3 separate regions of the Homo sapiens genome follow, and regions 2 and 3 are each linked to region 1. The links come from fine-mapping of genetic effects on gene expression. A gene starts in region 1. Each other region holds a variant in brackets. All regions are shown on one strand. Distances are between the middles of the regions.

What was found. PIP is the estimated chance that this variant, and not a neighbour inherited with it, causes the effect.
Region 2: its variant is fine-mapped to the expression of SULT4A1 in cerebellar hemisphere (GTEx, PIP 0.96).
Region 3: its variant is fine-mapped to the expression of SULT4A1 in testis (GTEx, PIP 0.96).

What each region holds. Positions count from the first base shown.
Region 1 is chr22:43,858,637-43,866,651 of GRCh38, reverse strand. It overlaps SULT4A1 (sulfotransferase family 4A member 1), which reads left to right and starts at 4,139. Exons shown (of 7, transcript NM_014351.4): 1 at 4,139-4,438. The coding sequence starts at 4,270. RefSeq lists an enhancer at 5,824-6,323.
Region 2 is chr22:43,812,733-43,820,747 of GRCh38, reverse strand. EFCAB6-DT (EFCAB6 divergent transcript) reads right to left here. Exons shown (of 2, transcript NR_186822.1): 1 at 7,764-8,015; 2 at 2,846-3,834. Among named protein-coding and RNA genes, the nearest start is that of EFCAB6-DT, 4.3 kb to the right of the region's middle. RefSeq lists enhancers at 91-732, 7,036-7,837. The variant CTAA/A (reference allele first, on the strand shown) is at 4,188.
Region 3 is chr22:43,822,880-43,830,894 of GRCh38, reverse strand. It overlaps SULT4A1 (sulfotransferase family 4A member 1), which reads left to right. Exons shown (of 7, transcript NM_014351.4): 6 at 1,697-1,835; 7 at 4,782-6,386. The coding sequence ends at 4,894. Among named protein-coding and RNA genes, the nearest start is that of EFCAB6-DT, 14 kb to the right of the region's middle. RefSeq lists an enhancer at 2,147-2,909. The variant T/G (reference allele first, on the strand shown) is at 3,968.

The DNA of each region.
Region 1 (8,015 bases):
TTGAAACTGCAATTCCCAATTGTTGGTTGCTAGTATGTATAAATAGGATTGTTTTTATTTGTTGGCCTTGTATCCTATGACCTTGCTAAACTCACTTATTAGTTCTAGCAGCCTTTTTGCAAATTCCTAGGGATTTTCTGTTAATAAAGGTTTTTCTTTAGGTTTCTATTCTGAAAAAAAGTTAAATGTATAGAAAAGTTTACTGCAATTGCGGTAGGCAGAATAACAGTCCTCCAAAGATGTCCACATTCCAGTCCTGGGAGCCTGTGAATATGTTATATTATATGTCAAAGTCAAACTAAGGTTGTAGATGAAATTAAGGTTGCTGATCAGCTGATCTTAAAATAGGGAGATTATCTTGGATTATTGGGTGGGTACAATGTAATCACAAGGGTCCTTAAAAGTGGAGGACGGAGACAGAAGAAGAGTCAATGTAAGAGCGATATGGCCAAGCGCAGTGGGTCATGCCTGTAATCCCAGCACTTCGGGAGTTCGAGGCAGGTGGATCAACTGAGGTCGGGAGTTCAAGACCAGCTGCACCAACATGGAGAAACCCTGTCTCTAATAAAAATACAAAATTAGTCGGGCGTGGTAGTGCATGCCTATAATCCCAGCTACTCAGGAGGCTGAGGCAGGAGAATTGCTTGAACCTGGGAGGCGGAGGTTGCAGTGATCCGAGATCGTGCCACTGTACTCCAGCCTGGGCAACAAGAGTGAAACTTTGTCTCAAATAAACAAGTAAACAAAAAGAGTGATACGATGTGAGAAAGACTGTGTCTGCCATTTTGAAGATGGAAAGAGACCATGAGCTAGAGAATGTGGGTGGCTTCTAGAAGCTAAAGAAAGCAAGGAAATAGGTTCTCCCCTGGATCCTCCAGAAAGGAATGCTAGCCCTGCTGACACCTTCCTTTTGGTCTAGTGGTACCAGCATCAGACTTCTGACTTACAGAGCTGAGTTTGTGGTAATTCATTATAGCAAAATAGAAAATGACTACATAATGAACATATATCATCACCTACATTCACCAATTGTGGCTTTTCCCACATTTTCTTTCTCGCTCTCAATGTGTATACATACATGTGCTTGCATTAGGGTTATAATTGTGGTTTTATTTTTGTAAAACCATTTGAAAGTAAGTGGCAGACATCATGATTCTTCACCCCCAAATACTTCCACATGTACCTCTGAGGCAAATGGACATTTTTACATAACCACAGTGCAGTTTTCAAATTTAGGAAATTTAAAATAGAATATCATCTAATCTAGAGTCTATATTCAAATATTGCAAATTATCTCATTAATGTCCATTATGGCTTTTTTTTTTCAGACGGAGTCTTTTTCTGTCACCCAGGCTGGAGTGCAGTGGTGCAATCTCAGCCCACTGAAACTTCCATCTCCCAGGTTCAAGCAATCCTCCTGCCTCAGCCTCCTGAGTAGCTGGGATTATGGTGCGTGTCACCACTCCCAGCTAATTTTGACCAGACCTCACTTACAAAACAAACCCAAAGATAAATGCAACAATTTCAAGATAGTGACCACAGACCATTAAATTCCAAAGTGTGGGGCCCTTCTGAGCACAGAACCCTGTGTGACTCCCCTGGTTGCGTATCCGTGAAGCAAGGCCTGCATCTATGTCCATGTCTGTACTTTTATCTATGTCTATATCTTCATGTAACCGCCACTAAGAGCAAGCTATGATGTTTCCAACACTATGGAGGGTAGGTAACCTTGAGTCTGCTCCCAGTCAACCCTCTTTCCAATGCCCCAGGTTAAGACTATTCTCACCTCTATCACTATAGATCAGTTTTGCTTGGTTTTGACTGTATATAAATAGAATCATATGACATACCATTTTTTGTGCTTGACTTAGTTTGTTCATCATTTTGACTGTGACATTCTTCTCAGTTACATTCCTTTTTTAAAAAAATTACTGTATTCCATTGTATGAATATATCGCAATTTATCTATTCTACTGTTGGGTACGTGGGTTTTTTCCCATTTTTGTCTAACATGCTCAAATTGTTTCCGATTTGACCTATGATAATACTTTCATGTTATACCCTGTGTCCTTCTGACCTATTCCCAACATTTTTGAACTTGCAGGAGTTCAAGACTCAACAAGACATTTTAGGCTCATCTTGTACTTTCCTTGCCCTGGAGTTGGCTTTTTCTCCAAGAAACCCCAGGTTCATTTGGTGAGGGAAGTATTTAGCAAAGATCTGGGCAGTGGGTATGCCTAGTATTATTGAGATATCACTGCCTAAAGGCTTTTCCAGCAAATATAAGAAATAGGAATTTTAAAATATCATAAACTCATGTCAATACCTCCAATTCCAATCCAATACCATAGAGTTCTTCCCTGCCTTCTCGCATTCCCCACTTACATTTTCCTTCTCCCACAGTGAGAACCCTCACCTGAAACATCAGGATATTCATTCATTCACTCAATCCCTCTAGCTTTTGGCTAGATGCCCTTTTGCCATTGGCCTAATTATTCTGAATAAAGGCTGGGTGCTCGGAATGTCCTCTTTCTTTTTTGGAAAGACATCTACAAGCTTCCCAAGTCAGGATTAATTGCTGTTTCCTCTCTCTGTCTGCTATGTACACATGGCCTGCGCTTCTCAGCCCATGTGTATGTCTTTGGTGTCAGAATGCACGTGTCTCACTCTACAGTAAGAAGGAGAGAGTAGGAATAGGTCCCGTCCAGCCACTCTGCTCCAGATTCTTGTTGGTGTAAACTCCTTCCATCTTCCTGGCTACACTACTTAGAGGTAGGAATCATTCTTTTCCTTTACACAGCTGATGATGCTCGGCTGCAGAGAATGAGAGCAGGCTGTGTTGTTTTCATCTTTGTGCTTCCCCAGGCATGTTAGTAGGTGCTTCATATATGTCTGTTGAGTGCATGACTGGCAAGGGGTTGCACTGAGATCTCTAGAACTCGGTTGCTCTCAAATTATAGTTTGCACAAGAAGTGCCTTACTAAATGTATATTTTTGTAATTTTTCTCCATAGATCTGGGGTCCTGGAATTTGCAATCCAACACTCCCCTCCCCTACTCATGGGATATTAAGAAGCACTTTTTGGCTGGGCGAGGTGGTTCACACCTGTAATCCCAGCACTTTGGGAGGCCAAGGTGGGCAGATCACGAGGTCAGGAGATTGAGACCATCCTGGCTAACACGATGAAACCCCGTCTCTACTAAAACAAACAAACAAAAAATACAAAAAATTAGCCAGGCATGGTGGCATGTGCCTGTAGTCCCAGCTACTCGGGAGGCTGAGCCAGGAGAATGGCGTAAACCCGGGAGGTGGAGCTTGCAGTGAGCTGAGATCGCGCCCCTGCACTCCAGCCTGGGCGACACAGCGAGACTCCATCTCAAAAAAAAAAAAAAAAAAAAAAAAGCAAAAAAAAAGCACTTTGTTTTTTTGGCTGGACTAGGTGGCCCATACTTTTTTTTTGTTGTTGTTAGAAGATCTCGTCCTGTTGCCCAGACTGGAGTGCAGTGGTGCAAGCTCACAGCTCACTGCTAATTTTTTTTTTTGTATGTTTGTAGAGATGCGGTTTCACCATTTACCCAGGTTGGTCTCGAACTCTTGACCTCAGGAGATCCGCCCGTGCTCGACCTCTCAAAGTGCTGAGATTACAGGCGTGATCCACCGCGCCTGGCGAAGACGCATATTTTTAATAGGACCTAATATTTACCTGAAATTATCTTGGTTATTTACCAATGTAAGCTCCAACAGGGCCAGGCTTCTGCTTGCTTCTACCCTGACGCGTGTCGGGGCCCTGGCCCAGTGCCTGGCACAGATCAGCAGCGCGCTAAGCACGTGTTGAATGGACGACTACCTTTCAGGGCCTTCCAGCCAGGGTATCTCATGCGTCTGTGTTGAGCGCTTGCTGAGTGACAGAAGCTATGAGCGGAATGAACGCACGCACGACTGAGGAGGCTGCAGACCGCGGGCCAGGGTCTCTGTCAGCCCCGGCAGCGGGTGGGTGACCCCGGCCGGGGGCGGGGCGGGGAGGACGCGGCTCCGCGGCGCCATGACGTCACGCCCGTGCAGCGCCGCGGCCGCGTGCCGGGCGGCGCCATGACGTCATACCCGCGGAGCCTCCGCCGCGCGTCGGCGGCGCCATGACGTCACGCCTGCGGAGCTGCCGCCGCGCGCCGGTGGGGCGCGAGCGTGTGCGGGGCGCGGGCGCGGGCGCGGGCGCGGGCGCGTGCGGGCTGCGAGCCGGGAGGCGGCGGCGGCGACGGCGACGGCGGCGGCATGGCGGAGAGCGAGGCCGAGACCCCCAGCACCCCGGGGGAGTTCGAGAGCAAGTACTTCGAGTTCCATGGCGTGCGGCTGCCGCCCTTCTGCCGCGGGAAGATGGAGGAGATCGCCAACTTCCCGGTGCGGCCCAGCGACGTGTGGATCGTCACCTACCCCAAGTCCGGTGAGCCCCGCGCCGACCGCGCCCGCCACGCCATGCCCCAGCCCTGCAGCGCGGCCGCGTAGACGCCGCGCCCGCGCCCGGGGCTTCTGCTGGGCCGGGTGGTCGCCCTTGGCCTCCGCCCCTGCCGTGCCCACCGCTCTCCCGATGCTCGGATCCCTGCGGGGCGGGGTGGGGTGGGGTGGGGGTGGGAAGGGGCTTGGTTCTCATCTGGGGAAACCAAGGTCAGAGACCTTCGGGAGCGGCCCCTTCCGTGGAGATGGAGCCTATTTGGCCGGCGCTGCAGGAGGATGGGCCCAGGGCCGCCACCCATCCCTGCTTCTCCCTTTACCTGGCTGGCTGTGTGACCTTGGACAGGTCACTCAACCTCTCTGTTCCTGAATCCTGCCCAACCTTTGATGAGTGCAAAGTCCTGGTGTTCACCTGGGAAGGGAGATAACATGGGCGTCAGGGCTTTCAGCGTGGAAACGTAACGTCCCTCCTTTCCAGCCTGGGCTCCGGGTGGGGGATGGGACCAGTCCCCGCCTGGAGTGCCTTGCTTGTACATTCTCTTGTTTCAGGGCTGCCTCCATCACCGAGGCAGGACCTGGGGCATTCACATTTCCCAGCATTAGCTGACGTCACTTTCACAATAACAGCTGTGTGAGCTAGTGGTGGTCATTCCCACTTTACAGTCTAGGCACAGAGGCTCAGAGAGGGGAAGAGGCTGGTCCAAGGTCACTCAGCTGGTGAGTGGCTGACCTGGGAATTAAAGCTAGGCTGGTCTGTTTCCAGACCTGAGGTAGGAGATTGTATAGTACCCCATCTGAGGTTTTTAGGGAAAGGAGGTAGCAGCTTTCCTGTTCTGTAAACATGCCCTGGGATTTCCTTGTTGCCACTGTATTTGAGGCAATCACAGCGTGGTTTAGAAGGTGTCTGGCTCTAAGGTCACGCCGGACCAGCAGTCGGGCAGTTTCAGGAAAAGCTGTAGGCTTGGCTGTTGTAGCTGTATGGAGTTCCAGACACCTGAGGGCAGGTCTCTGACATTCTTCTGAGGAAGATTGGAGTAGGGACTCTCAGTGGAGGGTGTTGGTTGGAGAACAGAGCGTTCGATGGGCTGCTATCTTGAGCACATGCCAGTCGCCGCATGGGGTGGGACCTAAAATGCTTTAGGAATGGCTAAGCGTGTCGTTGGCTTCTGTGGCCACTCATTAAGTCCTGCGGGCCAAGTGCTCTATCGCTGTTAATCTGTGAGGGACTCTTACACCTTTTTTTCAGAGGCTCAGAGAAGGCACAAATTGTTCGGAGTCACACAGTTGCTGAGGGACAGAGGTCAGGTCTAGCTAGGTCTCCCGGTCCACGGCCAGCCTCTCCCCTGCCTTATGGGTGCTCCGTTGCCCTTGGAAAACCGTGAGGGCCCAAGAAGGAGGGGGACCTAGCCTTCTTTCTTGGAGGCTTTAAAATGCTGGAAGTCTCAGCCACTTAGGGATTTTGAGGTTTGTGTCACTTCTCTGAGGCCCCTCCAAGTGGACTTCTGGTAGCCCAGTTCATATTTTCTTTTCCTTTCCTTCCATCTGCTACTGGGGATGGATTTGTAGCAGGCATCAGTGCTTACACATTAAGAACCTGGCTTCGGAGTTGGAAGTCCTGGGTTTGAATGCAGTTTTGCGGCTTACCAGCAGAGTGACCCTGGGCAGATCATAGAATCCCATTGAGCTGTGGTCTCTGCGGAGGGAGAAGAGACCACCTCGGCCCGCTGATGTGTGGCTGTGAGGATGAGCAAAATGGCGGGTGAGAACGCTTAGCCCACGTCCAGACACACGCTGGAAAGGCTCGTGGTTAATGCTGACTTTTAAGCCCTGAACACCTGTTGTGCCCAGATGCTTTGCTAGGGGCTGGGGAAGCCGAGAGGGCCCCATCTGGTGCCTGTCCTTAGTGAGCTCTCAGTCTGATGGGGGAGACATGGTTGGTGCTGGGGTTGGGGCAAGTAGCCAGGACTAACAGGTGCCCCATTCACCTGCCATGGCAGGGAACCCACGGGCCTCCTTGGATTTCCAGTGCCCAGGTGTAGGAGATCCTAATGAACTTGCAGGTGGTCAGAGCCGGAAGGGCCTGGTCCCTTGTCAGCCCCTTCCCACCCTCTGCTGATGGAGAAACTGGGGTTCAAAGGGGTGGTGGGGGCTTTCTGGTGGCTAAGGCAATGATAATTAGATCCTGCCTTCGCTTCCTGTCCGGTATTTTTTCCCACAACCCCGTGCTGCTTGCTCGGATTCTTTTTGTGCTTGCGACATTCTAGCTTAGATGGCGGGTTAGGACTGTGCTCTCCAGCGTAGGACCCTCTGCCCACAGGCGGCTGCTTACATCTAATGAATTAAAATGAAATAAAAGTGGAAATTCTGTTCCTCAGTAGCATCACCATGTTTCAGGTGCTCAGTAGCCACATGGGGCTAGCGGCTGCCGTATTGGGTGGCGCAGATATGGAGTGTTCCCATCACAGCTGAAAGTTCTGCTGCACAGCGCCAGGTAAAACCGTGATCCAGACAGTAGGAGCCCATTGTGTCTTCTGAGAAGGACCTTTCTGTTGATGACCGACTTTGTTCCTATTCATTCTTACAGCGTAGTTGGTCCTGGGACGGTGGTTGTATTAAATCCGATTGTGTCTGTGAAAATATTTTGTCCCTGTGTGTTGGTTTGATGCAATCACTGCCACTGGTTTTGTCAACAGGTTGATTTGAATTGGGTGCTCGTCCCCGAGGGGGCACAGCCCCAAAGTCATGGAGCTTGGGCTTTGAAATACGGTCCCTGGCTCAGCCAGAGCACCCACTGCCCTGAGTTTATTTTGCCCCTGGTTCCGGCCAGTCCTGAAGTGTGTGCGCATTCTCACTGATGCAGACGGAAGCTTCTGGGCCTGGGCGTGGGTGAGCCACCTGGTTTCTTTGAACCTCAGTTTGCTCATTAAAAATGAGAGGATTTGACCAGATTGATTCATTTAAGTCTTACATTTTCAGACAACTCAGGGGTTGAAGCTGAGGGGAGCTGAAGCTGAGGGGAGACTCATGGTGTGCAGGTCCCAGGCTAGATGGATGTCCTAGTTTTCTTGGTGTGTATGTCACTGTGCCTGGGAGAGACAGGTTTCAGAAGGGCTGGGCATGAGGTGATGGTGACCTTGTGGCACTTGCAGTGACATGGGGGAAGCCAGAATCCTAACACTGAAAAGTTAACTGACAAGCCAGGGTGGCTGTTCTCAGGGTCAGGTAAATGGCCTGGTAATGAGGGTTCTGAAGAGGAGGATCTCGGGAGACTGCATGGAGGAGGAGACAGGTTGGGTGGATTACCCATTACAGATGCTGTTTTGCCCTCCACCCACTTTGATTCTCAGGACGGCCCTGTGCTCTTGTGATTATTTCCTTTTTATAGATGTGAAAATGAGGGCCTAGGGAGGACAAAGGGCTGGGGTAGTGGCAGCACCGAGTGTAGATCCTGGAGAGAAACCACCCACAGGAGGGGGTAAGAGAGGCGTGGGGGTGGGAGCTAGCACCTGCCAGCGCTTCCTGGGTTACCAGTTTGTTCTGAGATGAGGGAGCATGCGGAGCCCTTTGAG
Region 2 (8,015 bases), 46 kb after region 1:
AAATGAGGACAGAACCCTTCCCTGCCGGGAGTCGGGCGCCAGCTCCAGTGCTGCTCTGTTCCTATTTGTGGGACTGCAGGGAAGGTCCCTTTTATGTCATAATGAAGAGGTCACAGACCAGGTGTCCTAAAATTCCACCCAGCAGGAGCATGCTGTGCCTCTTAAGTGTGGTCACAGTGTCCAGCGACTCAGCTCCAGAGAGGAGCTGATGGGTGTGGGAGATGCCGGCTTTTCAGCCGATGACAGGCCCGGCCGGCAGGAGCAGAGAGCCCAAGGCAGAAGCACCTGCCACCCAGTGTGGGCCACGGGCACCGTCTCCAAGGCGTGCTGAGCCTTTGCCAAATCCACACATCAAACGACAATTTGATTCTCACACTTGGATCCCTGAATGCTAGCTGGCACTGACTGTCTGAGCTACAGCCCTTAAATCTGTCTCCTCACCACTGAGGAAAGGAGTCTGTGCTCTATTAAAAGCATTTTTTAAAAACCAGAGAATGCTAAATGTGTTTGAAAAATAAAAACCGACCAAAAAATACATTTTATCCCTCTTTAGAGTTGTTATCTTCCCATATATTCGTGGTGCTGGGCACCAGCTGGGAATGCAAGTCTGAAGACTGTGTGAGCAAGGCCCCCTCTGCAGAAGCAGAGACCGCATTGGAGCCAGCCAGAGACTCTTCCCCAGTCCACGCATCCCCAGACACTGAAGTGAATGGTTGAGGGCCTTTTCCCTGTTTCTGTCTCTCAGGTTGACCCTTTACAATCCATAGTACATGCAGTTCCCAGATGGGGAAATAATCTCTCAGATCCAGTTTGTGGCCTGGCACCCATCTCACTGCCAGAGAACCACGGCTTGTCTGTGCCCTCCGTGTCCCAAGTATGCACTTCCCTCCGCCTGGGTTGCCATTCCCCGACTTGACCCAGCTTACACTGATTCAGTGCGATCCAGGCACGATCTACTCCAAGACGCCCTTGGGCACAGTCCAGGCATGATCTACTCCAAGAAGCCCTCTGCCAAGGGTAGGAGCTCAGAGCTCCACTTTTGGTTAATATTACACCTCCCTTAACATATCCCGGATACACGGCCATCTGCCGGGAAAGCTTCTTGAGGCCAGGGCCATGTCTCTCTCACTTTCCTTGGCATCAGGAACTTAGCACAGAAGCAGTGCTCCGTGAAGCCTGATGGCTGGGAGCATTCCCAGAGTCTGACGGATCCAGCCTTGCCTTGTCATGTCAGCTGTGTCCAGCTGCCTCCACTGGCTATGCACTTGGAAGGCCCTCTCTGGCCCAGCCACACTGCTCACTCTGAGACCTTGACCTGCACTTCTAACGTTCGCTTCCCTAACTGCTATGGACCGTTTGGCCCCTTGGAAAGCCTTCCCCGTTATCTGTAGGTGCTGCCAATCCATGTCCACCACATGCCTTGGGCTGGTTTAAAAACGCAATCTCCTGGGGGCTGCCATGAATGAATCCCAGCTCACTGCCATCCTGGACACAACTAGGCCTCAGTTTTTACCAAGGACCTTAGGGGGGGGTCACCAGATCTGGCAGACAGGCTGTTTTTCAATGGGTGATGGCTGCCTCCATCCTGCGTCTCCATCACGCCCGGACTCTGCAGAGGAAGAGAAGGCCGGACCGTTCCTTAGCCCACAGAAGGCGTGACTGGCATATCTTCACTCCCATCATGAGACGGGATGCAGAAACGCATATCTTTTTTCCTTAGAAGTGTGCCAGCAGTTAGAGCCTTGAATTCGGAAAGAGTGATGATTCCCTGTAGTGGTATATCGGTTTGCATTTGCTAACTGCTTTCAAGTTTTCTTTCCTGAGTAGATATTTCTAGTCCAAGTAGGCTGTGAGCAGAGTCTGTGCCTCATTCATCCCTCTGTTCCCATACTGTGCATTCGTTCCTAACAGGTAATCCATAAATGCTTGTTACCTAACTAAAGGCAAATTAAATGCTAAACAGCACTAATGACAAGCTGTTGCAAGATCCCGGCTCTCAGGAAAGAATTACTTGTGGTTGTCAGGGGCCTGCCTGTTGCCCAGGTGTAGGAAACATGAAACACTTCTTTCCCAACTGCTTCTCTATTCCAGAGGTGGTGCATTCTTCTAAGATTGCTGCAATATAATGTTTGGGAGGCAGGTTTCATTAAAATTATTTTTTGAGACAGAGTCCCACTCTGTCACCCAGGCTGGAGTGCAGTAGTGCGATCTCAGCTCTCCTTAACCTCCACCTCCCAGGGTTCAAGCGATTCTCCTGCCTCCGCCTCCTGAGTAGCCGGGATTACAGGCACCTGCCACCACGCCTGGCTAATTTTTGTATCTTTAGTAGAGACAGGGTTTCACCATGTGGACCAGGCTGATCTCGAACTCCTGACCTCAGGTGATCCCTCCGCCTCGGTCTCCAAAGCACTGGGATTACAGGCGTGAGCCACTGCGCCCAGCCAGGGTTCATTAAAATTCTAAATATCAGTGTTCGACACCACGGAATCTTGTTCAGGAGCAACATAAGTGGATTTTATTCTTCTTTCCGTGAAAGGAAACAACCAGTAGCTATTAAAGGAAATTAAGAGCTTAATAGTATATCAGTCTCTTAAAGGGGAAAGAGAACATGCCTAGGTGCTTTGCTGAGCCTGTGGAGAGCCGCTCTCCATGGAGGATCCTCAGATAGATCCTCAAATGGCCCCCTGTTTACAAGTAATCATCAATTATTTGTAGTGACAACGTTTAACATGTGCAATTTAGTTTCTGGCTGATTGAACTAAAACGAGCAGCTGCGTCATCTGTCAAGGTAAATATTCGAGAGATAAAGCAGCTATTTTAATAAAGAAAAAATAACCACAGTAGCTTTTCCAAAAGAGCTACTTATACCTCATTTATTTTTATGTCATATTTTTTTTTCCTCCTCAGGACAGCTGAAGAGAATCTTGTCTCCATTTTATGAGACTACCAAAAGGACAGCAGTCAGGGAAGCAGATTTCTGAGAGGGAGAGGCTCTCCGCTTCCATGTGGACACGCTACGCATCCCTGCCACGTACTTGCTCTTCTTCCCTTCTTTATTAATAGACATGGTGGAAACCAGTACTTAACTTCTTCGTGGCTAATCAGCCCCTACTGTTTCTTTCTCCACATGAAGGCATAATCTGCATTCGTAACATCATCACTGATGCCTGTGAGATAATTACAGGCTCGATCTTACGGCCCAGTCTCTTAGGTGTACAGAATTGTGGTGAAAACCAGCTCCAAGCCCCCAAAACCCGCAGGGTGGGCAGAGGGTGATTGTCACCCAGGTCTCCATGATCCCAGAGTTTCTTCTTGAATACTGAGGGAATGGACCATCTGTTGCATATAAGTGTAAAGATATTTTCTCCAGCAATTCATGGTTTCCTTTTCAAGATTCTCATCAAAGGTCTTGAGCAGCAGACTCATGCCATGGGTGTAAATAGTACAGATGGTAACGGTTCCTCAGGAGGTGAGTTTACTGGCTTCAGTGATGCTGAATGGTATCTAGGAAAAGGTAGGACCCTCACCCACCAAATCCAGGCTTCAGCCTGTTGGAAGTGGACCCACTGCAGGGCACCTAAGGGAACCATCAATGTCTTCTGGGAAGTTTTTTTCAGAGAAGACAACAATCTCCTCCTACAAACTGTTCCTTGGGGCCACTGTCACATTATACAACTCTGGTCTGTTCCATCAAAGATCAAACCTTATTGAATAGATTTTAGGGGCTCATCTAGATAATAAATGAGGGAAATTTCAGTTTCTGTAAAAATTAAATCTGCACATGGAGGTGAGACGTTTCCTGGAACAAGGAAAACCCTCTGGATTGAAGATGATCTTTAAGGAGAAAAAAGAGAGAATCACGTGACAAAACTTCATGATGGACTCATCTAATTAGTCATTTCAACATATAGAAAAATTATCCTTGGGTTCAAGGAAATCAGCAAGGGTTTTGAGTTTCTGGGTTCTTGGCTACATTGATCCAGTTGTACACCACTTATGTGTGCGTCACTGTTACTGTTGTTTTTTTTTTTTTTTTTTTTTTGAGACGGAGTCTCGCTCTGTTGTCCAGGCTGGAGTGCAGTGGCGCAATCTTGGCTCACTGCAACCTCCGCCTCCCTGGTTCAAGCAATTCTCCTGCCTCAGCCTCCCAAGTAGCTGAGATTACAGGTGCCCACTACCACGCCTGA[CTAA/A]TCATTGTAGTTTTAGTAGAGATGGGATTTCACTATGTTGGCCAGGCTGGTCTCGAACTCCTGACCTCAGGTGATCCTCCTGCCACAGCCTCCCAAAGTGCTGGGATTACAGGCATGAGCCACCGTGCCCGGCCTGCTTCACTGTTGAGAGCAGGCCAGTGCAAAAGACATTAAGGTATTCCCTACTAGAATTCCATGTTTGCCCACACAGCCAGACATTGGCCAGGGTTTATCACCTAAAATTATCCCTCAGGTTCTTTTGGATTGAAGATGCTTCCAGGACTGTGAGACAATACATTTCTGTTGTCCAAGCTGCCCAGTCTGTGGAAATTTGTTACCGCAGCCCTATCTAATACAACTCCCTTTCTCAGATCCACTTAAACTGTGCACGTTTTGCCCCAATTGCTTTATTATTTGCTATCTATCAATACATAATTTTTTCAGAAGCATTTGAAAGTAAGTTACAGGCTGGGCACAGTGGCTCATGCCTGTAATCCCAGCACTTTGGAAGGCTGAGGCAGGCAGATCACTTGAGATCAGGAGTTCAAGACCAGCCTGGCCAACATGGTGAAACCCTATCTCTACTAAAAATACAAAAATTAGCTGGGCTTGGTGGTGTGTGCCCGTAATCCCAGCTACTTGGGAGGCTGAGGCAGCAGCATCGCTTGAACCCAGGAGGTGGAGGGTGCAGTGAGCTGAGATCGCATCACTACACTCCAGCCTGGGCAACACAGCGAGACTCTGTCACAAACAAACAAACAAAACACCAAAAACCATTAAAAAAATGGAATTATCTTTATTTTTTTTTTCCTAATGTCTTCTTATGATAGGATTAGGTGATGCATTCCAGATTAGAATACTACAGCAGTTGCCCTTTTCAACGGAGGTTGTCCTTCACATTACATCTGAAGCCACACAATGTCCATGCTCCTTGTTGGTAGTGTTAATTTTTATTATGGTATCCAAGCATTGTCCATTTTTCTTTTGTATTATGACTACTTTTTCTCCTGTAAGTAATAAGTGATCTGTGGGACTATCCTTTAAAACAATGCAAATATCCTGCTCCCCATCCAAAGAACCCCGAGATGAAGCACCCGTGAATGATCCTTGCCTGAATCAATCTTCACTCAGTGGTTGCAACATGATGGCTTTTCAGCTCTAGTCCTCCTGCATGACCATTTGTCCCTAGGCCTGCTACTGCAAGCACGTGCCCTCCCTTGTCCTGCATTTATTCTATCTGTCCATCGCTCCTGGGCCTGGACTCATGACTCCTATTTCTTTTACTGTCCTTCATTATTCTGGCCAGCAGGAGCCCCATTCAAGCTGGCTTCTGGGCTTTGTGACCATAGCGATCCTGGGGGGAGAATGAGGTTGAGGTTGTAGGATGGTCCCAGTGGCCCTGCATGCTGTTTTAAAGATTTTTATTTTTAGCATAAGAAGGCTTTTAAGGCAAGGTAGTGCAGGGGAACTTGGAGAGAATGGATGAGATTGCTACCATGTACGTATTCTGGTGTTAGAATCGACAAGACTTGCTGAAGCACTAGATATGGGGTATGAGGTAGTGATCATTGAGGGTAACAACAAGGCTTCCTAGTTTGAGCATTGCTTTGGAATAGGTGAGTGCGGGCAGGCACAGTAGCTCACACCTGTAATCCCAGCACTTTGGGAGGCCGAGGCAGGCGGATCACGAGGTCAGGAGTTCAAGACGAGCCTGGCCAACATGGTGAAACCCTGTCTCTACTAAAAATACAAAAATCAGCTGGGCATGGTGGCTCACGCCTGTAATCCCAGCTACTCGGGAGGCTGAGGCAGAGAATTGCTGAAACCTGGGAGGTGGAGGTTGCACTGAGTCGAGATCGCACCATTGCACTCCAGTCTAGGCGACAGAGCAAGACTCCGTCTCGAAAAAAAAAAAAAAGTAATAGGTGAGTGAGGGAGGTGAGTGGATCAAGGGCAATATGGATGGCTTAAGTCTGAGTGATCTCCAGTACATTCCAGTAGAGGGGTCAAGGCTGGTGAGAAGCATAACAGCAGGACCTACGACAGGGTCAGAGGGGCCCTAACATCCAAAGGCCACACAGAGGAGGGAAGTCACCAGTGGGGCCCAAGAATTGAGTAGTTGGTGTGGTATTAGAGAAGCCTGAAGTATTTCAGGCAGAAAGGAGTGATCAACTGGGCTGAATGCTACTGAGAGGTCAAGTAATGTACGGCCAAGTAGAGAAGAAGTATTTGTGAGAATGCCAGTTACCAGGCAATGAGAGTCACGCTTCTGTGAAATTTGGTAACTGAAAGACAGCATGTATAGACAGCTCTACTGAGAAGCAGGTTAAAGAGGAGCAGAGAAATGGGGTGGAAACCAGAAGATCATCTATTTTTTTTTTAAAGATGTGAGATACTAGAGCATGTTCCAAGAAGGAGGGAAAGAGAGAAAGAGAAAGAATGAGACTCTTGGCTATCATGAGAGAGGGAATAACTGAAGCCCTTTTGATCTCAGGACCAAACTTTTTGGCCTCAGGATCCATTCACACTCTTAAAAAGTATTGAGGATCCCAAAAAACTTTTATTTATGTTTATATCTATCAATATTTACCATGTTAGAAAATACAATTGATAAAAAATTTATTAACTCATTAAAAATAATAAACCCATTAGATGTTAACGTTCTCTAATGAAAAATTACACTTTCCAAAAAAGTGAAAAGAGGGGCAGTTTTCTATTTTTGCAGATCTCTTTAACATCTGGCTTAGTACAAGACCGCTGGATCTCTTACCTTCTTTTGCATTCAATTTGTTGCAATATCACACATCATGTAGCTTCTGGAAAATCCCCCCATATACTTATGAGAGAAAAACAATGAAAAAGCAAGTAAAGTCTTAAGTGTTATGAAAGTATTTTTTGGCCCCATGGACAGTCTGAAAGGGTCTCAGGATCCCCAGGGATTCCCAGACCACACTTAGAGCACTGCCTATAATAAAGAAGGCAAATGGGGAGGGATCCAGGACACAGTTAGAGGGACTGGCCTCTGTAAGAGACCCTCTTTTGGGGCAAGAGGAAAAGAGGCGATGAATGCCAAAGTGATTGTGAAGGAGTGCATTCCATTCTTATGCATTACATTTTCTCAATGGGATAAGACCCATGGTCATTGAGTCCGGTGAGGAAGTAGTGAGTGCGGGAGGTCTGAGACAAGCCATGGGAAAGAATTCTCTTGGTGAACAGGAAAACTAGCTGCCCAGTGAAGTAGTCAGAGTGCCCAGCAGGGACCGCATAGTATCCATCTTTGCAGCACACACCAGGGCACCTAATTGACCTGCCGCAGCCATGTGTGCAAGGAATTCCAAGCTGCACACGTCTGCCTGGCTGCTTCTCTCCCACAGTGAGCAGTGTGGCAGGGTGCCTAAGAGCAAGCTCCATAGGTTCTCATTCTGCTCCTACCCCTGACTGGCAGTGTGTCCTTGAACAAAATGCTCTGTGTGCCTCAGTTACCTATCTGTAAAATGGGAGTAACCACAGCACCCACCTCACAGGGTTGTTGTGAAGACAAATGAAGATGACAATTACATGTAAAGTACATACCTAGGATGGGTGAGTGCCTGGCAAGGGAAGTGCTCCATAGGGTCAGCGACAACAATTACATTCACTCACGTGATTTATGGCGCTTCCACTCGGCCCTCTGTCTTAGTAATAATTCACTCATTTAGCGAATATCAATGGAATGGATGCTTACTGTGGGTATGGGCGGAGGCTGAGGTTACAGCCTGGGCAAAGCAGGCCAGCTCCCGTCCTCACCGGCTGTCTCCTCGAGCAGACAAGCGGACCCAGTGAGAC
Region 3 (8,015 bases), 36 kb after region 1:
CAGAAAACTAGCCCCGAGTGAGCATGGTTGTCTCCAGGACTGTGGTGTGGGTCCATGTGTTCTCACCCTGGGGTTGAGAGGGAATGCTTCCTGCCAGAGCGCTCACTGCCTGCGCTCCACTGCACCGCAATTACAGTGGCCCTTTCCCACGAGCCGGGCACTGTGCCAGGCACCCCGGGTATATTCCCACTTCATCCTCAGTCATCTTGCAGGGTGTTCTCACCAGTCACGGGGTGCCCTGACTGCAACCGTGTGGCCAGCTAGTACCTGCCCATGTGGAGGCACGACCCCAACACGCTGGCTCCGTGCCGTGGTGTGCGGCCTCTTGCTGCGGCCCTGTCGCTAGTTCCAGATGGGGAATGTGTGGCTCAGAGAGGTGAAGTGGGCCGTTCCTGCCAGCTGACCTGGGCGTTCTGCCTGATCCCTGCTGGGTTTCATAACCAGCAAGTGTCCTGTGACATGTTGCTGGATGTAGCCTGGCAGAAACGCCCCTTCCTCTGAGATGGACGTCACGCCGCAGTGAGCTGCCCCACGAGGATTCTGCTGAACGCTCCAGCAGGCTGACTTTAAGCCAGCTGTGTCCTTCTTGCGGCATCTCTTCTGAGAGCCAGGTTTCTTCACTCTTTCTCCATTGCTACCCTTTTTCTTTGAAATGGAGTTCTTGGTGGCAGGGCAAGGGAAAGGGAGCTCTGTATTCCTTGGCTCATTCTCTAATAACTGTTCCTCTGACTCTTGAGTCAAGCCCTGCGCCCGGGATGCACCACACCCCTGCCTGTGGAAGGCAGTGCGAGGCCAGAATCAGACCTGCAACCGCTGCTGCAGGAGTCAGCGCACTGTGGGGACCCAGGGAGGAGCTGGCGCCCACACCAGCTGACTCCCACACCAGCGGTCAGAGAACATTGTCTTTTAAGGTTTCCGAAGTGCTGCAATAAAGAAATTAAATCATCTTTTCACTGTAGGACTTTTTAGAGGCTTTAATGCGGGAATTTGCTTTACAAACCTTCCAGAGAGGAAACAGCCTCCAGCATCTTCCTAATGGGACCAAGGCACCTCTAGGTGACAGCTCAGGGCTGTGATTGAGAAGACGAGGAGCCTCATCTCTTGGGGAGAAAGTGGCAGGGGTGGGGGGCTGGGGAATGGCCCCCTCAAGACGGTTAGCCACATCAGTGACATTCCGCTGTCAGGCGTGGTAAAATAATGGGGCAGGGTATGGCAGGCATGACGGAATCTTGCCTGTGATGAAGCGGGCTCCCTGCCCAGTGCAGGGCCATCTGGAGACCAGAGGGGCCTCCCTGCGCTCCCAAGGGCCAGCCCAGACGCCAGCTGACAGGCAGCAGGAAGGGAAAGAGGAGCCCATTAGGTCTTGCTCCTCACAAGAACCATGTTCTGAAATATGTTTTTTACTTCTTGCTCCTGTTAAAACTTAACCACACCTCTATTAAGACCTCATGTCTGCAACCCAATTCCCTGGAGGACCAGGGTTTGAATTCAAGATCTCCACGTGAGAGCTGAGCACACTTGGGCGATTTCTTAACCTCTTAGTGTTATTTCTGGACAAGGCTGATGTCAGCCTTGTGAGCATTAAGTAAGGAAGGCCGTGTGTAAAAAGTCCTCAGCGTGTGCCCAGCCTGGGGTCGTGTCCAGTAAAAGGCCCCGCCTCTGATGGGCTGCTCTGCTCTCTGCACTTGTCTTCCAGGACCTGGTGACGATGGTGGAGCAGCTGGCCAGATTCCTGGGGGTGTCCTGTGACAAGGCCCAGCTGGAAGCCCTGACGGAGCACTGCCACCAGCTGGTGGACCAGTGCTGCAACGCTGAGGCCCTGCCCGTGGGCCGGGGTACGTGCCCCACCCTGCCTCCCGCCCAGGCACTCCCCACCCCAGCCAGGCTGCTTTCTCTGCCTGCTTAGGGAGCCGAGTCCGGTCCCTGTTGCCCTCCCTGCTCTCCTTTTACAGCAGTCTGTAGCTGGCCCATGGCCTGTGCTCTGTTAGCTGGTGCCCATGGATGGCACAGTGCTCATGGAGTGACGGAGTACCCTGCCCGCTGGTGTTTGCATTGCCTCCAAGCAAACAGTGTTTTGACTTGAAAAAGTGCATTTCAGGCTTTGTGGGCGGGATGTTTCTCAGCAGGGAGTCTACTCAGATGGCCTGAAATCAAACGCCCCACAGAGCAGATCCAGGGACTGGGTTTGGTGCTATGACATGTCAAAGCGCAAAGCATGCTGATGGGTTTCTCAGTCTCTAACTGACTTGTGGGAGAGTTAAATGAAGTGGGCGGGAAGTTAGGAGACACCGTTTTTCTTCCTTCACTGAGTGGACGCTGACTGAGCATCTTCTGGGTGCAGGCAGCACAGGTGAGGCCTAGCCCCACTTCGGGGTGGTGAACTTAAGCAGACAGTACCAAGCTAAGCCGCTGCACAGAGGGAGGCCAGTTCCTGCTCTTGGCGGCAAGTGACAGTGGGCATGAGGCAGCTGGAGATGGGGACAGTGTTCCTGACAGGAATCCTCCCCAGATCCACCTGGGTTGCTCCCCCTGTCCTTAAGGGTGTGTGGCATTTGGCTTTGATGATGGAGAGCCCAGGCTCTAAAACCCCTGAATCCCAGGGTGCTGGCCTTGGCCATAGGAGGCCCCCTGTTGGTAAGTATGAACCTGATGGACACTTGGTGTGTTGGGCACTTCCTGGGTTGAGAATGTTTGCAGGGAGGGCCCAGAAACGTGGATGGCTCTGTTCAGCAGCAGCCCCACAAGATGGAGTGGGAGATGCCTGGGGCGGATGAGAGACGCGCTGGGCTCCAGCTCAGCTCTGCTGCCCTCTGGGAACGCAACATAGGTCAGGCCTTCAGCTTCTGCGGCTTTTTGTTCTTCTCTGAAAAGGGGCTGATCACGGCTAAGGGCGGTTTGAAGGTCAAGTGCAAAGTGCCGTCTCTTATAAAGGCAGAGCAGTGGACTCCTCAGGAGGAAGTGAACTGAACCACAGTCCCTCTCGACTTCTTTCCTGGCTGCATTTTCATAAATATTTGTTATTTAACATTTATTTGCTCTTTTTTAGTTTTGCTTTTGCTGTGTTTTGTTATCCTTGGATGTGACCTTCTCCAAAATACCCCTTTTGGTTCACGTGTGTGTGTGTGTGTGTGTGTGTGTGGTGAAGCAGCGTCGAGAACATACTGTGTGCCCATATGCTCCTTCCCTTGGGTTTGCTTTATCATGGTTTACCTTGGTTTTGCTTTATTTCAGTTCTTTGATTTGTTTTCTTTTAGCACATTGCGTCTTTGCTCGGAAGATCTTCTTGAGTTGGTGAGAATGCAGGGCCGAGTAGCCAGCTGCATTGCTTAGATTTGATTCATGTCACAGCATAAATTGTCTTGATTCCAAATCCTAAACCAGGTGGGTGACTCCTCTGACGAGCTCTCAGCTGTCTCAGCTGAGAAAAATAATCATGGAAAAATAGTTTGGTTGCTCTAGCAGCTTCTAATTTTGCCCCTTAGGTATCATTAAAGGGTTACAAGAATAATTTTTCTTGTTTTTCTCTCCAACACTGATAATTTTTTGTTACCAAAGAGAAAGTCCGTGTTACGTTGGGTATTTTAGCTCAGCATTTGCAGGGTTGCAGTTTGAAAAACCTGAGGTCCTGCCTGGACAAGGACCGCTGTTAATAACGGAGCTAGTGAAGGACATTTGCTGGAGACAGAGCTCTGATCTCAGAGAGCTGACAATGGAAAGAATTCTAAACGAGCAGTTCTTCAAAAGCAGGGAGGCAGTACTCGGGTGATGTGCTCACAGCTCCCATAACTGGGAAGTTTGGAATCCCCGCCCCAGACATCTTCACGGTCACCGTTGCTATTGGACTAGACCAACCTAAGATTTTATATTAACAAAGACAATGGGAGCAACAACTTCTCTTGTCATGTTGAGCTGTCTTTCGTTTTTCCAAAGCCTTCATAAACCAGCGTAGACCGGTGCCTGCAGTTTA[T/G]CCCACAGCTCAGCCCTCCCTTGTGGCTGCCAGGAAGAGGTCTGGGTTTCTGACTAAGCCTGGGCTAGAGCAGCTGGGGGCTGTGCCCAGACTCATTTTATTGTTGACTCAGGGAATTCTCACTGCAGTGCATGTTTTGCATCTAGTCTGTAAAGCTAGCTAATGCTGCGACTATTTGATTCACTTTAAATTCCTCCCCAGGGTTTGCCAGGGCAGGCTTCTTGAAATCTGCATCTTTGGCCCAGTCAGGAGGGCTTCCTACTTAGTGTAAAATTTTCTGCACTTTGAATGATTTTTTTTTCCTTTTCAAATTCTCCCGAAGCCAATGACGCCTTGGTGGCACTGTTGAGCTGTGAGTGGATAATGGCGTGGGAAGGGCCAGGGCTGCCTGTGATGCCCAGAGCAGTGCACTCCCGCGGCAGATCATACTCGCTCCTGGGATGTTTATTAAACACCTGCCACGTGCCAGGTGCCGTTCTAGGTGCTGGGGACCCAGCACTGAACAGGAGTAGAGTCTCCCTGGTGGGCCCCAGCGGGGGGTGTGGAATGGCACCAGGAGGTGGTTGTGGCTCACTGTGCCACAGCCTCAGAGGGAAGCTGGTTCAGGTCATGTTCTGCCGCATCCAGTAGTTTCACAAATGTTAGGGGACCACCTGGTCTGTAGCTCAGACGGCCCTTCCTGCCCCCATAGGCCAAGTTCAAAGGGATCCAGGAATAGATCTGGAATGTTCCAGATCCATTTCCAAGGCTTCCTTTAGTTCAGTAGCTGGCCGGACAGCAAGTGGCCCCAGCAGTTCTCTTGTTTGCGTTTCAGGAAGAGTTGGGCTGTGGAAGGACATCTTCACCGTCTCCATGAATGAGAAGTTTGACTTGGTGTATAAACAGAAGATGGGAAAGTGTGACCTCACGTTTGACTTTTATTTATAATAACAGAAACAACAACCTGCATGCTCACAATACCCAGACAGTCTACTAGCCAAAAGTCCTGTATGCATTCATTTATTCCTTGCTGGACAAACTCTGGAAGCAGCGTGTGAAACAGCGGGGGAAGGGAAGAGCGGCGTGAGCGGAGGGAGTGTGATGATTCCCAACCGAAAGCAGCTGTCTCGCCTTTAGAACGTGCAGCCTCTCCATGTCTGATTACAAACAGTCTCCACATTGCAGTTCCAATGGCCTGGACCGTAAGGATAAAGCCTGTAATATATGCAACTAGAATGTCTGCCTTTTCAACCCCGTATTATTGTATTTTATAGAGCTTTTCACTGGAAATCTACATAAATGTCAGTAAACCAAATAAAAGTTCATTTCCAAGGGGAATCAGGAGCGAGCCACACCCGAATGGTAGAAAGATCTCAGGGTTAACTCTTTATTTTTGTAGTTTTATTATCTAAGGCACAGCCATTCTGTTCTCACTTGGTTCTGAGATAGTGGTGAGAACAGAGGATGAGTTGGGTCTGTTGGGGGGAATCTGGACACTTGTTTATTCTGACGGAGTTCACTTCTTCAGAACCTTCCTGAAATGAGCAGAAATTGTTCACTAGGTCTTCAGAATGGACGTCCTTCTGCCAGAGACTTCCAGCGGGCGGCTCCAAAGGCCCAATGCAGAGGAGCCCGCGGAGCATGTGCTGAGGGAAGTCTGCCTGGTGAGGCTGGCAGGTGGGAGTCTAATGCAGTCAGGAGCATTTGCATGCAGTGGGTGGAGAGTCGGCCACCAAAGGACCGAGTTGCGCTCGGAATTTGAGCTGAATTCCACAGCCTTACTTTGTTTCCTGAAGTGATAGCCTACTAATGCTGGCAAGCAGATGCTTAATAGTAAATTTCTAAAATCCCCGGGTCTTTATCATTCAGTTTGTTCTGTGCACCTGAGGCGCTCAGCCGTGGGAGGACCATTTTGCGAGTGTAGCCCTGTTTCACTCGGATCAGGTTGGCACGGCCGCCTGCGTGTCTGTCCACCTCATCCCTCCGTGTATCTGAGGGAGTAAAGGTGAGGTCTTTATTGCTTCACTGCCTAATTTTCTCACCCACATTCGCTGAAGCGATGGAGAGTCGGGGGCCAGTAGCCAGCCAACCCCGTGGGGACCGGGGTTGTCTGTCATTTATGTGGCTGGAAAGCACCCAAAGTGGTGGTCAGGAGGGTCGCTGCTGTGGAAGGGGTCTCCGTTCTTGGTGCTGTATTTGAAACGGGTGTAGAGAGAAGCTTGTGTTTTTGTTTGTAATGGGGAGAAGCGTGGCCAGGCAGGTGGCACGTGGCATCGCATGGTGGGCTCGGCAGCACCTTGCCTGTGTTTCTGTGAGGGAGGCTGCTTTCTGTGAAATTTCATTTATATTTTTCTATTTTTAGTACTGTATGGATGTTACTGAGCACTACACATGATCCTTCTGTGCTTGCTTGCATCTTTAATAAAGACATGTTCCCGGCGTTGCGTCGAGCGTTTCTGCTTGTGGGGGTAGAGGGGTCCCTGCAGCGGTGCTGTCGGTGCTTGGGACAATATGACTGTGGGCCCCGTTGACACCCCATTCCCTGGGGTTGACAGCAGAGGGAAACAGGCCCGTGTTGGGCTTTGATGAAGCAGAATTCAGACTTTCCAGGGGTTCACTTCTCCCCATTATTTCACTCAAATTCAGACTTTCCAGGGGGTCAGTTCCCCCACTATTTCCTCATTCACCTCTGATCACTTCTATAAATGGGGTGGAGGAGAAAGGGTAAAAGCATGGGAGATGCGGGTGCACCTGTGGGTCCAGGTGTCGGGACCTCCCAGTCTCTGCCTGGGAGCCCTGTGTTCAGCGTTGCGCACTGTGGTGCCCGAGGCCGGCCCCTCCAACTGTGCTTCCCCACTGGGAATTCCAAAGCCTGTCTTCCTGATTTCCTGTGGAAGGAGAGTCCAGGGCATTGCTTTCCTTGAGAAAGCTCGAGCCTTCTGGAAAATCATGTTTATTTTCAAATGAACTACCTCTAGGTCTCAGGTGAAATTCTAGAAATTATTTTGGCACCTGGAATTAACACAGACCCTGGGTTAATCAAGTATCCAGTCTGCTGTGCCCTAGAGGGCTTGCCTTCTAGTAATTTATTAACCACATCAGTCAAGCAGCCAGGATGCAGTCAGTGTGCCTGGAGCCCAGGCAGCGCCTGTTTACCCATGTCCACTCTTCCCTGCGTGGTGGGTGACTCACCTCACTTCATGGAGTCGGTCATTCGACTGCACCTGCTCCATGCCAGGCACTGTTCCCGGCACTGTGGATGCGGCAGGGGACAGAGAAAGCCCTGCCTCTGTGGAGTTTGCATTCCAGTGGGGTAGACAGGCGACAGAACCCAAGATCAGTTCAGGCCCAAGCGTGCTCTAAGGGGATAGGGAACATGCCCGTGGAAGAATGGGGGGGCCTCTGAGGAGATGGTGCTGAGCAGTGGGGGGCCTGGCTGCAGCTGGGTGGGCAATGCGCTGGCAGGCACTCGGTTTTGGAGGGGTGGCTGCGAGCCAGCTGGAGGGCCTCACAGGTCATGAGATTTCAGCTTTTGTACTAAGATAGGGAGCCATGGGAGGGCTTATTCAGAAGAACGCCACCTGCTTTGCATTTTTAGAAGCTCTCCTGGCTGCTTTGTGGGTAGACTGCAGGGGCAAGAGCGAGTGGACCTTTGTCCCAGCTGTGAGTCACTCCATCTGCAAAGTGAGGTGGGCACTGTCTGAGAGCATCTCCAAGGTTTCTTAGGGGTCTGCAGTTGCAGGCCTTCGTGTGCTGGCTTCTGAGCATGGTTCTGGCTGTGCTCACCTGGAGCTAAGGCAGGGAAAACAAGCCAAGGCAAAAGGTGCTGTGAGGACTGTGAGGGAGCCAGGGTCAGGAGGAGGGAGCCATCAGGTTGGCAGTTGCATGGGAGTGCGGGTGGGATTTGAGCTGTGTCCTGAGGTTGAGGGTCACCTGGACAGGCAGGGAATGGGAGAGAGTCCTGGGCAGCCCTCAGCCTAGTCCTTTGTTATTTTACACAACAATCCACAGAACATTCCTGAATGTCAGAGCCCTCTAAGCGTAAGCCAGTGGTTGCCTGGTATTTTGA